Homo sapiens: one gene and its partners. The protein of the gene in region 2 interacts with the protein of the main gene of each other region in a pairwise test. Each region holds a gene or a part of one and is shown on either strand. Other genes may lie near its edges. The genes, in order: LHX4, ERO1A and PELI2.

Region 1 (3,649 bases), on a different chromosome or scaffold from region 2:
GAACCACCCACAACATCAGGAGATGCTGAGCTGAGAGTGCTCAGAGTCCAAATGAGGCCTCTGATGAGAACCAGCTGCAGGCCGGGGAGGTCGTGCCATCTTAGTATCTCTGATGAACGGCACTAGACTTCCAAAGGTGTCTTGGTATCTCTGAGTCCATCTGCTGTGATGGTTCATCCCTGACAAGTTGCCCTAATCTCCCATGACATCACAATTGACTTCAAGGCAATAGCATGGAGTGAGTTTTAAGAAACCAGAGCAGATTAGTACATTGCAGGCAAAGAGCCTTGGGATGGGTTTGCAGAGGCCCCAGGTCTCTGGAGGAAGGAGGTCAAAGGCCTCTGTCCACCCTGAAAGGCCAGAGCTGTGGGGGTGGTGGGAGGGAAGGTCCTCAAAGAGACAGGAAGCCCTGCCCACTCCTGCCATGGACCAAAGCCAAACCCAGCTCCAGCTGGCTCACCTAAAGGGCCCTTATGAATCCCCTCTGCTTCCTCACCACCACAATCCCCTTATTTTATACTGTGTTCAATGAACAAAAAACCAGTTTCTCCATTATTGATGAGATCTGTATAATATGTGTGTGGGCCCAGAAAAGATCTAGAAGGAGATACATAAAATTGTTGTTAATTTTTTTTCTCATCAAGCCCAGAGCTGTCAACAAGAGCCGTTTTTGCACAGTAACACCCTGAGTTGATCAAAATTCTAGTCAAAGGCCAAGGAACTTGATGTTTTGTGCGTTCACACCTCTGAGGTTATCATGTTGGGTTTGGCCAAATCCCAAATTCAGAGCCAGGGCCTGACCCCACGACCATGTGGGTGCATCTGGGAGTGAGAAGCCAGAGGTAGGGCTGCAGGAATAAAAGTGTCCACCTTGGCTTTGCGAGGGGAGCATGGGGAATGTGTTGTTCTGGGCTCTACGCTGGAAAGTCCCCGGGCTGCCCAAGCGCATGGCATGTAGGGCGAGAGCCGCTGCCGCCAGGCCAAGCTAGGCCTTTCCAGGCGTGGCTGCTAAATGCGGGACCTGACTTCGGCCTCCACCATGCAGAGCTCCTGCTGCCACCGTGGGCAGTGGCCCTGCAGTGGTTGTGGTGAAGGGGGTGGGGGCAGCTATATTGAAGTGGGTGGAGGGAGCTATATTGCTGAGACGGAGCCTCCCTGAATCTGGCATGTGTCCTGCCTCTTCTTTTAGCACTCACTGGGCACTTGCAGAAACTCCAGGAGGCCCTGCCCTAGAGGAGCCCACAGTCTGCGAGGCGAACAGAACACAATTAACAGACAGATGTATGAAGTGTGCAGAGGCCAGTGCTGGGCTCTCACCGACGGCCTTTGAGGCAGGGGCTGCTGAGAGGTCCATGTGCACCCTGATGTGCAAAACTAAGCGGCAGCCCCACGTGTCCAATACAGACCAAGCTCCCAGCCACCCCTCAGCACCCCAGCCTCCACCCAGGGAAGGAGGCCACCACCATGGTAACAACCAGGTTCTTGGCTGCTTCTGAGCCTACCATGGAGACAGGCAGGCTCTCAGGAACCATGGCTGGATGAACACTTCCATGAAGCCGGCGAGTGCTAACGGCCGGGGAGGTGTTCAGCATTTACTCTCAGTGTGGAGATCTGGGACGCTTCTCAGAGGTGGCGGTGCATGAGTAGGGCTCTGAGGGATGGGCAGGTGGGACGCCATGAGAAGGGCACCTCAGGCAGAGGGCGTGGCCCAAACAAAGGCCTGGAGAGGGGACCATGCGGGGCCATGCTGCTTACCGTTCTGCTTGGCTGTCTCGTAGTCTTCCTTGCACACCAGCCGCCCGTCCTCCATGAGGTAGAATTCGTCCCCCGTGGCCAGCTGCCGGTTGCAGATGATGCAAGCAAAGCAGTGCAGGTGGTAGACAAAGTCCTGGGCCTTGCGGACCACCTGGGTTGGGGGGATACCCTGCTGGCAGGCCGTGCATTTTGTGCCGAAGCGCCTGTCAGGGCAGCAGGAAAGGATTAGGGCACACAGGGAGCAAGGGATCTGGCTTCCCCCAACTTCCTGGAGCAGCCTCCCTCCTACCCCACCACTCCGGGACTCCATGAGCCTCACCCCCCAGTCACCCAGAGCTTACCGTCTGGTCCTCTCTGCCTCCATCTAGCTTCATTGCTTTGTGCCTGGGACTCTTCAACCACCAAAGAAGGGACTGATGAGAACTAGAGTCTCCCTCAGGTACCTTTTCCAAAGCTGATGCCCCCGGATTCCAGCTGCCCGATTAACACCCATCAATTCACAGGGGGAGCAGGTGGACTTTCTAAGTCCCTCAAAGCAGGCTGTCTCCCCCTCCACCTCCCAGCTTCCTCACCCTTATGGTTGATCCCAGAGGACATCCTCACAGGGAACTGTGTGTGCCACAGGCTGTGTGTAGAAAGCACCCAGCAACACCTTTTCACACACTCCCAGGGAGGAGGCCCTGCCTGGCCAGGGGACAGCACGCTGCAGAGAAAATGCACTTTGTCAGCAGAGCAAGGCTGTCCTGACAGCTGTTCTCTCTCCTTTGCCTCCATTTCTCCCCTCACCTCCATTCTGCACACACAAAGCCCTCCAAGCCTACCTCCATCCCCTTCCTATGCACGCACACAGCCTGGGGCATGGTGGTTTGGGAAGGGCCCAGGAAGCTGCACTTTTCAGCCCCTACAGCATTCGGGACAAGGAGTCTGCAGATTACAGTTTGGAAAATGCTGCTTCAGACCTCTCCTTGGTCAGCACCTTTCCAGAACAACACCGAGGCAAAAGGAAGCTACCTGCTGCCACCAAGGCAGCTTCTACCAAGCAAGCCACCCCCTGCCAAGGCCGGGAAGGAAGGAGAAATTGACACTTAAAAGTATCGTCCAGTGGGGTTGTTTCCACTCCCTTTCCCCATTCTGGTCATAGAGATCAACAGAGGCACACCGATGGTCATAGGAGACGAGGGAAATTTGGGGGCCGACAGGGACAGTGAAGGAGGGTGCGTGGCTGCAGGTGAGCCTTCCCCGCTTCAGGAGGGAGGCGGGAGGCATTGGGAAAGCAAGGGCAGAGTTTAAAACAGCAATCAACCTAATTATTCATGACATTTCACACAGCAGAACTTTATCTTCTTCAGGATGAAAGACTTCGCCTAATGGATCTGGGGAAGGTTTGATTTTAATGGTCCTTTTAACTAATGCTTATAGGCAGCCTGATTTCCCCTGAAAGGACAGTACATATTTCATCCACATTAATACCAAATAAATTAATTATGGTCATGGCTATCATGATGAATACCAGATTAATGCAGAATGATAGGTCTGTTATGCAGTAATGATACCTGCTGAGGGGGTTATGGGGGCCCGGAATAGGCATGGCCAGCAGCAGCCTCAGACGCCCCCCACCAGGGACACAGCATCCCAGAGAAAAGTGGGGGTTCTCTAAGTCTGCATGGGTAATCCTGAAAGACCCAGAGTGTACTTCAGGGAACACTCTTCTGAGATGGGTATAAGAAGGGTGTTGGGGTGTGAGGGGCTGAGAGGTGGTGGCTTGGGAGGACCCCAGGCTTCTGAATTCCTGGAATGCCTCTTGGTTTTCAGAGAGATGGGGCCCATTTAGAGCAGGAGTTCTCTGCGTGAGGGTCAGCATAGGCCTGTAAACCACCTGCTAAGTTGTTCAAAA
Region 2 (4,293 bases):
CTAAGATGGTTTCTGAGTGAAATATTTTTTGGTTACAGAATTTCTACAAGTGTGAAAGAATTAGAAAACTTCAGGAACTTGTTACAGAATATTCATTAAAGAAAACAAGCTGATATGTGCCTGTTTCTGGACAATGGAGGCGAAAGAGTGGAATTTCATTCAAAGGCATAATAGCAATGACAGTCTTAAGCCAAACATTTTATATAAAGTTGCTTTTGTAAAGGAGAATTATATTGTTTTAAGTAAACACATTTTTAAAAATTGTGTTAAGTCTATGTATAATACTACTGTGAGTAAAAGTAATACTTTAATAATGTGGTACAAATTTTAAAGTTTAATATTGAATAAAAGGAGGATTATCAAATTCATATATGATAAAAGTGAATGTTCTAAGTCTCTCAAACTAGCGTTTTATGTAATAATATGTAATATAAATAAAACTATGGTAAATGTGACAAGCATTTAATAGGAAAATGCTAAGGAGGCCTCATAAATGACCCATAATTACCAACGTAGAATTTTTCAGTACATTTAGGGTTGCTGGATTTAGCAAATAAAAATAAAGATTGCCCAGTTAGATTTGAATTTCAGATAAACAATTAGTTTTTTAATATTTTACATGGAATATTTGGAAAATACTTATACTAAAAAATTATTTGTTTGAAATTCAAATTTAACTGGGAGTCTTGTATTTTATCTGGCAATCCTAAAATACATTGGTATGAAACAAATCACTTTTAGAAGTATATTGCTATTTTGATTGGGTTGTTTTTGTGTGTAGAAACGTACAATAACAACTCAAAGGCACAGGAGATTTCTAAACATTGTGAAAAGTTGAATAGATTATATATTTATTCTCATAATACTTTCACTAATACTAAATAAAATTTGGGGAACACTTTTTATTTTTATATAATTTCCAATTTACAGAAAAGTTTCAAAAATAGTACAAAGAGCTCTCTTACCCAGATTCACTAATTGTTCATACGTGCTTTATCTTTCATGCTTTCTCTGTACACACACACACACACACAAATTTTTCCTCAATCATTTGAAAGTCAGTTATAGGCATCATGCCCCTTAAACCCTAAATACTTCAGTGTGTAATACTGAATAATTACTAAAAATGATTTTCTCAGAAAAAAAAACTCCCACAATTCTGGAACTATAATACTGTAAGCCTTAGAATAAATAATACTTTCAAGTTCCAATCTAAAGTTCTTTTTGAGTTTTGTTGCCCGTTTTATGCTTGATGTGTATAGTAATAGGGTAGGCTATTTATTTTATTAAAATTTTTTTTAGAGACAAGGTTTTGCTGTGTTGCCCAAGCTGGAACTTGAACGACTGGGCTGAAGTGATCTTCCCACCTCAGCCTCCCAAGTAGCTGGGAATACAGGTGTCTGCCACCATACCCAGTTTCATTTTTGTTTTTTATACCCGAAGTTCATTTCCTTTGTCTCCCTAAAACTGAACTGTAATTTTGGGAGGTTTTCATTAGTGGAAGCTCTTCATTTATAAAGCTATTTGAAGGGGTTTAGGAATTTATATCACATGGTAATTGTAGAGAAAAAGAAGCTATATACCTCAAAATCGTGCCCTCTTTACATATGTCTTATCAGGTATAACATGTTGAAATGTCACATTAGTAGTAAAGTGGGGTTTATTTATATAGTGGTTAAGAAATGTCAGTTTACACTGCTGTATACTTCTTCTTCTGTGTCCCTAAGGCCTGGTACAGTGCCAAGCACATACTTGGTATCCAATAAATATTTGTTGGATGAATGTATGCATATGTATTCAGTATATTTTAAATGAATAATCACAGAAGTAAGTTTAATAATTTGTCCTATTTTTCTCTGTCACTTCCTTTTTCTCTAAGGCAGGAAAGGAAAGACATTAAACCATTAATTAAGTCAATCCTCTTGGAGACTCAAAAGACTATGAAGTGATCACTCTATATAAAATATAAATACAGTGTGGGTTCAAATGGCCATTTTTTGTGTGTCCCTCTCTCTCATCTTATGCTTCCCTTCCTTTTTTTATTTTTATTTTTTGGAGACGGAGTCTTGCTGTGTCGCCCAGGTTGGAGTGCAGTGGCGTGATCTTAGCTCACTGCAAGCTCTGCCTTCCAGGTTCACGCCATTCTTCTGCCTCAGCCCCCTGAGTAGCTGGGACTACAGGCGCCCGCCACCACGCCCGGCTAATTTTTTTTTTTTTTTTTTTGTATTTTTAGTAGAGGCAGTGTTTCACCGTGTTAGCCAGGATGGTCTTGATCTCCTGACCTCGTGATCCACCCACCTCGACCTCCCAAAGTGCTGGGATTACAGGCGTGAGCCACCACGCCCGGCCTCTTTTTTTTTTAGCTGCCAATCTTTTTGAAGGAATATTCTTACCTCTACTTTGTCACCTTCTACTGGCTCCTTAACTAAAATCTGCCATTTGGCTCTCTGGTTAACAGTCCCTTCCTGTAAAGTCTAAAATCTTAATTCTAAATCCACAGTTTAATTCACAAGCTAGTACTTGACTTTTTTTCTGTATTTGACATTTTTGACAACCCCTACTTTAAAGATTTATTCCCTTGACTTCTTACATTTTGCTCACTCCTGAACCACCCCCCACCTTTTGGCCTCTTCATTTATTCCTTAAATGTTATTCCTCAGACCTCCATTTTTTTTTTCTCTCTTAATCACAACACCACTTCTCACGCTTGGGTAATTTTAATTCAGCAGTTCCTAAATCCTTATCTTTAGCCAGACTCCTCAATCCATCTGCCTGTTGCACTTTTCTTGGTTGTCCCAGAGACACCTGTGTGTGTCTTAAAACATTCATTCTCTGCAAAACCTACTCTAATGCCTGTGTCCCTTACTTTGGTTAATTTTAGAACCATTATATTCTAAGTTTTCTAGGCTCATTCCTCTCCTCCACCTTCCCCTATCATTTAGTGTCTAAGTTTTACTGATTTTATCTCCACCTCTCTGATACATCACTCTTTCATCTTCATTGCTATTATTAATAAATACCTACAGTACTAACCTGCCTCCTATACCTAGCTGGTCTCCTCTCTGTTGCTCAATGTTACCACAGCAGGCTTTCTAGAAGCACTCTGACAGTGTTACTCCCTAATATCCTTCAGTGACTTCAGGAACTTTCAGGAGAAAGCCAAACTCCTCTGTTTGGTGTACAAGGTCTTCTGATGTGTTTCCTCCACCGAATGTTCTGGTGAAACAGACTTACACTTCTTCAGAAGCCACATTTGGCCAGGCCTCCCGCCTTGGTAAATGCTGTACTCTTTGCATCAAGTATGCTAGTCATCCTTCCCCACTTGGAAAATTCCTATGCATCTTGCAGGCCTGACATAAGCATTTCCTCTGTGAAACCTCCTTTGCTCCACTCAAGGAGAGTCATCTAACTTCCACTTTCGTGTCACCACTGTAATTACAACCTACCTCTATTGTATGTCACTTAAATCGTACTGTATTGTTTTATTTTTCAAAAGTCTTTACTAGAATGTGAGCTCCTTAAGGGCAGGAAAAGGAACCTTTTTATTTTTTGCATCTCCATAGCATAGTTTTTGGCATATGAATGTTTAATAAATGTTTGTTGAATAAATTGATTTTAAAGTGACATCTTTATTATATTAGAGGTCCTACCTATATTCCAAATACTTTCACTCCCTTCACTTTACAGCAAGGGTCAGTAGAGTCCCAAGGATTTGTAGACTTTAGGGGGTCAATAAAGCTGAAATTGTATTCAAGATTTGGTGTGGTTTTTGGTGGGTCATGAAAGGGGTCTATTCGGGGAAAAAAAGGAACTTCTTTCATGGGAAAAGGCAGCATCATTGAGGAATTTCTTGAATAATCAAATAATACCTTCCTAGGATTATAAGGTAGATAAATGGATTCCTGTTTAAGATTCTGAAGGGAAGGGGAGAAGTGTTATAAATTATTTCATACAACAATTTTTCTTAGCTTAATGTTTGAATAAATAAAAATGTTGGTACCAGTACCATGCTGTTTTGGTTACTGTAGCCTTGTAGTATAGTTTGAAGTCAGGTAGCGTGATGCCTCCAGCTTTGTTCTTTTGGCTTAGGATTGACTTGGCGATGCGGGCTCTTTTTTGGTTCCATATGAACTTTAAAGTAGTTTTTTCCAATTCTGTGAAGAAAGACATTGGTAGCTTGATGGGGATGGCATTGAATCTATAAATTACCTTGGGCAGTATGGCCATTTTCATGATATTGATTCTTCCTACCCATGAGCATGGAATGTTCTTCCATTTGTTTGGATCCTCTTT
Region 3 (3,649 bases), 3.7 Mb from region 2:
TCAGGCCTTTAACTCCCTGAATAAATAGGTGAATGGAGTTTGAATTGTGCCCTCCTTTTTTAGCTAGTTAATGATAACATATGGTAACATTTATAATATTACTCCAGGAGGGCCTTGAGTATTTAATTAAATTATATATGAAGTATTTTATTAAACTAAACTGGCTTTGTATAAAATTAAGTAAATTCAGTTAAGTTGATTGCATACCTAATTTTAGGTGAAATTATAAAAATAACCATAGCGTAGCTATGGTCAGGCTCTAGCAGGTGCATTACATTAATTGTCTTTCCAGTGTTGCTTAAAATAACCCGTGAAGTCAGTGTTGTTATTGTGTCCGTCTACAGATGAGGAAACCTGGGCTTTAAAAGGTTAAGTCACTTGCTAATAAGAAGTGGTGGATGGGGGGTTGAATTCACTACCCTGTGCTTAGATAGTTGCTATGTAGGGGCCATTAGTTGCCATGGTAGAGGCCAAATGTCTCTTGCTTCCACAATACTGTCAATTCCTGTGCCTGCTCATAGCTTTTCTTTTGTGGTAGAATTTAAAAAATAAAATCTGAATTCATGCCTACTAATGATTGCTAAATCAGGCCACCAGGTTCAAGTCCTGGTTTCACCACTTAGTTCTGTGGTATTGAATTGACGACGTAACCTCTCTGTGCCTGGCTTCCACATCTCCCAAACTGGAATAATATTAATACATGTCTAATAGGACTGTTGTGAGAACTAAATTCAGTAGCTGGAAAGGATTGGAACAGTGCTGGACACAGTAATGCCCCATGACTGGCTGGTTGTTATTACTAAGCAGGGGTTGCAAACTGGGGATGTGGCAGAAAACACCAAGTCCACGCTCTGCCCTCTAATTGCATGGTCTGGAGGAGGTCACAGACTAGGCAGCAGATCAGCAGATACTGTGTGATGAGCACAGTCATGAGAAGGTACCGAAGGTACTTTCCCTCCACAGGACACCTACCCCAGATGTGGGAGTCAAGGGTATGTGGAAAATAAAAAACCATACACCCCAGATTTATAATAAGACTTTGTTGTTTACCAAGAACTGCCCTGCAGGAGGAAAGGGGGGTTGTTCCACAGCCAGAGGCTAGGCCACCACCATACCTCAGCTTCTTACCACATCAGGGTGATCCTTTAGACACAGTTTTATCCTGCAATGAGGCCTCCTCTGAGAATTGCCTGTGGTCAGCAAGGTCAGGAGCCTCACGTCACCAGTTAGAGGAGAGGAGACCATGGGATGCTCGGTATGGTGGTGGGGCGGGGAAGGAGCATCAGCAAACTTCAGGCTGTCTGAAAGGAGTCACAGTGTATGTCCTGTACAGTATTAAGATTTATCATTTGTTGGGACCTTAACTTTTTCTAAAAACTAATACTTGGGAAGGGCTGATTTCTTCATGACAAGGAAAATGTCCAGGGCAAAGTGACATCCAGGTGAGACCTGGATGACAAGTAGGAGTTTGCCAACCAGGGCTCAGCTGGAGCAGGGTGTACTGGAGTGGAGTATTCTAGGCAGAGGTTGCTCTTGCACCTGCCTGTGGGCAGTCCGAGGTAGTGCGCTCATGGACTCCAGCTCCTTGCAGCTCATCGCAGGACAGTCCTGGTTTCCAGTTAGGAAGGGAAGAGCTACAGCAGGAGAAGTCGAGTGACTGCATTGGGAGTGACCTTTTAAGTGTGTTAAGAAGCTTGGGCTGTACCCCAAGGGCAGCAGAAAGCCGCCAAAGTCCTTTGAACCAAAGATTGACAAAATTTCTGGTGCTTCCCATACCTCTCTCTTTCCCTTACATGGTTCTTTTCCTCCACCCCAGCTCCTGGCTCTGTCCTCAGTCCTCTCTGCCCTCCCTGGGACCCTGCCTGGGCAGTGGCATCCATTCCCACAGCTTCACCTAGGTGCGGATAACATCCCAGATATGTTTCTTCGAGCCTGATCTGTCTCCAACGCTGCATCACACGTGCCTTGTATGCATTACCACCACCGATACTCTGCACACCCTCACATTCAGCACACCCAAAACTGAACTGGCCTGGCTCTTGCTGTTGAACTTATTTAGTTCTCACAACAATCCTATAAGACATGTATTGGCATTATTCCAGCTTAATGGATGTGGAAGCCAGGCCCAGAGAGGTTAAGTCGTTGACTCAAGACCACAGAGCTACTAAGTGGTGAAATCAGGATTTACTCCCTCATCTGCCATTTCTCCTGTGTTTCTGTCTGTGGAAAGCACTGTTCTACCCAGACAACCAGGCACGTAAGAGGCTCTTGCTCAGATCAAGAGCTGAGTGCCATCGAGTCTAATTTCTTTCTCTCTAGTCCCTGTGCCTCTGTCTCTTGCCACTGAGACTGTCTTTGTTGAGGTGTACTCACCCTCTCTACCCAGAGAGAGCACCAGTTGCCTCCTTCACAGCTCATCTTTACCCCTCCAACCCACCCTCCAAAGTTCTAGAAGTGACCTTTTTGAAAGGTCAATCAGTTCTTTTATAGTTACCTAAACCCCCTACCAACTCCCTCTGGGCATGGATGCCAGCCTCCCTCTCCCGCCTGGGTCTCTCGTCCCCCCCCACCCAGTGCCCTGAACTGCGTCCATCCTTGTTCAGCCTGGCTGCACAGCCTCATCAAACTCCCTGTTGCTCCCTTGGTGCATATGCCATTTGGCCTCTCCTCCTTCTCCCTGCTGTGCCTTCCTGCTATCCTCCCTACTGAGGCCTGACATCTTTCTCAAATCTCTGTTAAAGAAAAACCTTTTAGAAACCATTTCTGACCGTCTGTCATCATCAGAGTAATAGTAGCAGGTATTTACAGAGTGTTGACTGCGTACCAGACAGTGTTCTCTAAGAACTCTTTGCATTTACTTATCTAACACAACCACCTTTTCTAAAGTTTAAACAAGGGGAAACTGAGGCACGAGGAGTTTAAGTAATCTGCACAGCGTCATACAGCTAATAAGTGGGAGAGCCAGGGTTCAAACCCAGAGTCCACACTCCTGGCTGCTATAAATTTGTGGCCTTGAACAGTGCTTTACTGGCCTTCATGCACTCTGAGCTCTGGGCATGTCTGCCTTCCACTACTGAAGAGCAAGTCTCAGCAGGATGGGGAAGAGGTTTTATTGGCCTTTGGTACCTCCAAGGCTTAGCATGCATCTGGCATGTGGAGGCAGCGGTCACGTTCTTGCTGACCACGCCTAGCTGCTGCTTGTCAGCTGTTAATCAGTCTTATAAGCACTTAGTGCATAGCACAGGCCTCCTTCTAAAAATGAAGGCTCATGTTGAACTGTTTAGCTTCAAACCTTAAAAATGAATGATGAAAGATAGATTCAAGGTGGAGGAAGCTAAGGGTCACCAGGAGTGCTTTGGACCCTCCAGTAATGACTGCAGGCCCCCCGCAAGATCTTCTGGATTGGCTGTCATCAAGATGAGGATGAGTCTCCACTGGATGGACTGGTAGGACATCTCTCATCCTATGGGATCAGTGAGTCATTGTGTTACTGACTTAAGGAGTTAAAAAGAAAATCTTAGGAGATTTGTGAAGTTCATTAAAATAACCACTACAGTAATTGAACATGTAAAGCTAGGTATACATACTGTGCTCAGGGCTTTGTACATACGGCATATATGTATCATATCCAGTGATCAGATGAGGAAGA

Evidence for each region.
Region 1: the proteins of ERO1A (region 2) and LHX4 interact in binary tests that used the Homo sapiens proteins (3 or more experiments, as listed by UniProt).
Region 3: the proteins of ERO1A (region 2) and PELI2 interact in a two-hybrid assay, tested with the Homo sapiens proteins (one large-scale study listed by BioGRID and IntAct).

Annotation. Positions count from the first base shown.
Region 1 is NC_000001.11:180,264,701-180,268,349, reverse strand, and holds part of LHX4 (LIM/homeobox protein Lhx4), read right to left. Parts: intron 2,148-3,649; exon of another isoform or gene 2,120-2,147; coding exon of another isoform or gene 2,097-2,119; intron 1,959-2,096; coding exon 1,756-1,958; intron 1-1,755. UniProt on the Homo sapiens protein: May play a critical role in the development of respiratory control mechanisms and in the normal growth and maturation of the lung. Binds preferentially to methylated DNA.
Region 2 is NC_000014.9:52,639,376-52,643,668, reverse strand, and holds the end of ERO1A (ERO1-like protein alpha isoform 2 precursor), read left to right. Parts: intron 1-38; coding exon 39-99; 3' UTR 100-3,754; downstream 3,755-4,293. UniProt on the Homo sapiens protein: Oxidoreductase involved in disulfide bond formation in the endoplasmic reticulum. Efficiently reoxidizes P4HB/PDI, the enzyme catalyzing protein disulfide formation, in order to allow P4HB to sustain additional rounds of disulfide formation.
Region 3 is NC_000014.9:56,292,786-56,296,434, forward strand, and holds part of PELI2 (E3 ubiquitin-protein ligase pellino homolog 2), read left to right. Parts: exon of another isoform or gene 1-570; intron 571-3,649. UniProt on the Homo sapiens protein: E3 ubiquitin ligase catalyzing the covalent attachment of ubiquitin moieties onto substrate proteins. Involved in the TLR and IL-1 signaling pathways via interaction with the complex containing IRAK kinases and TRAF6.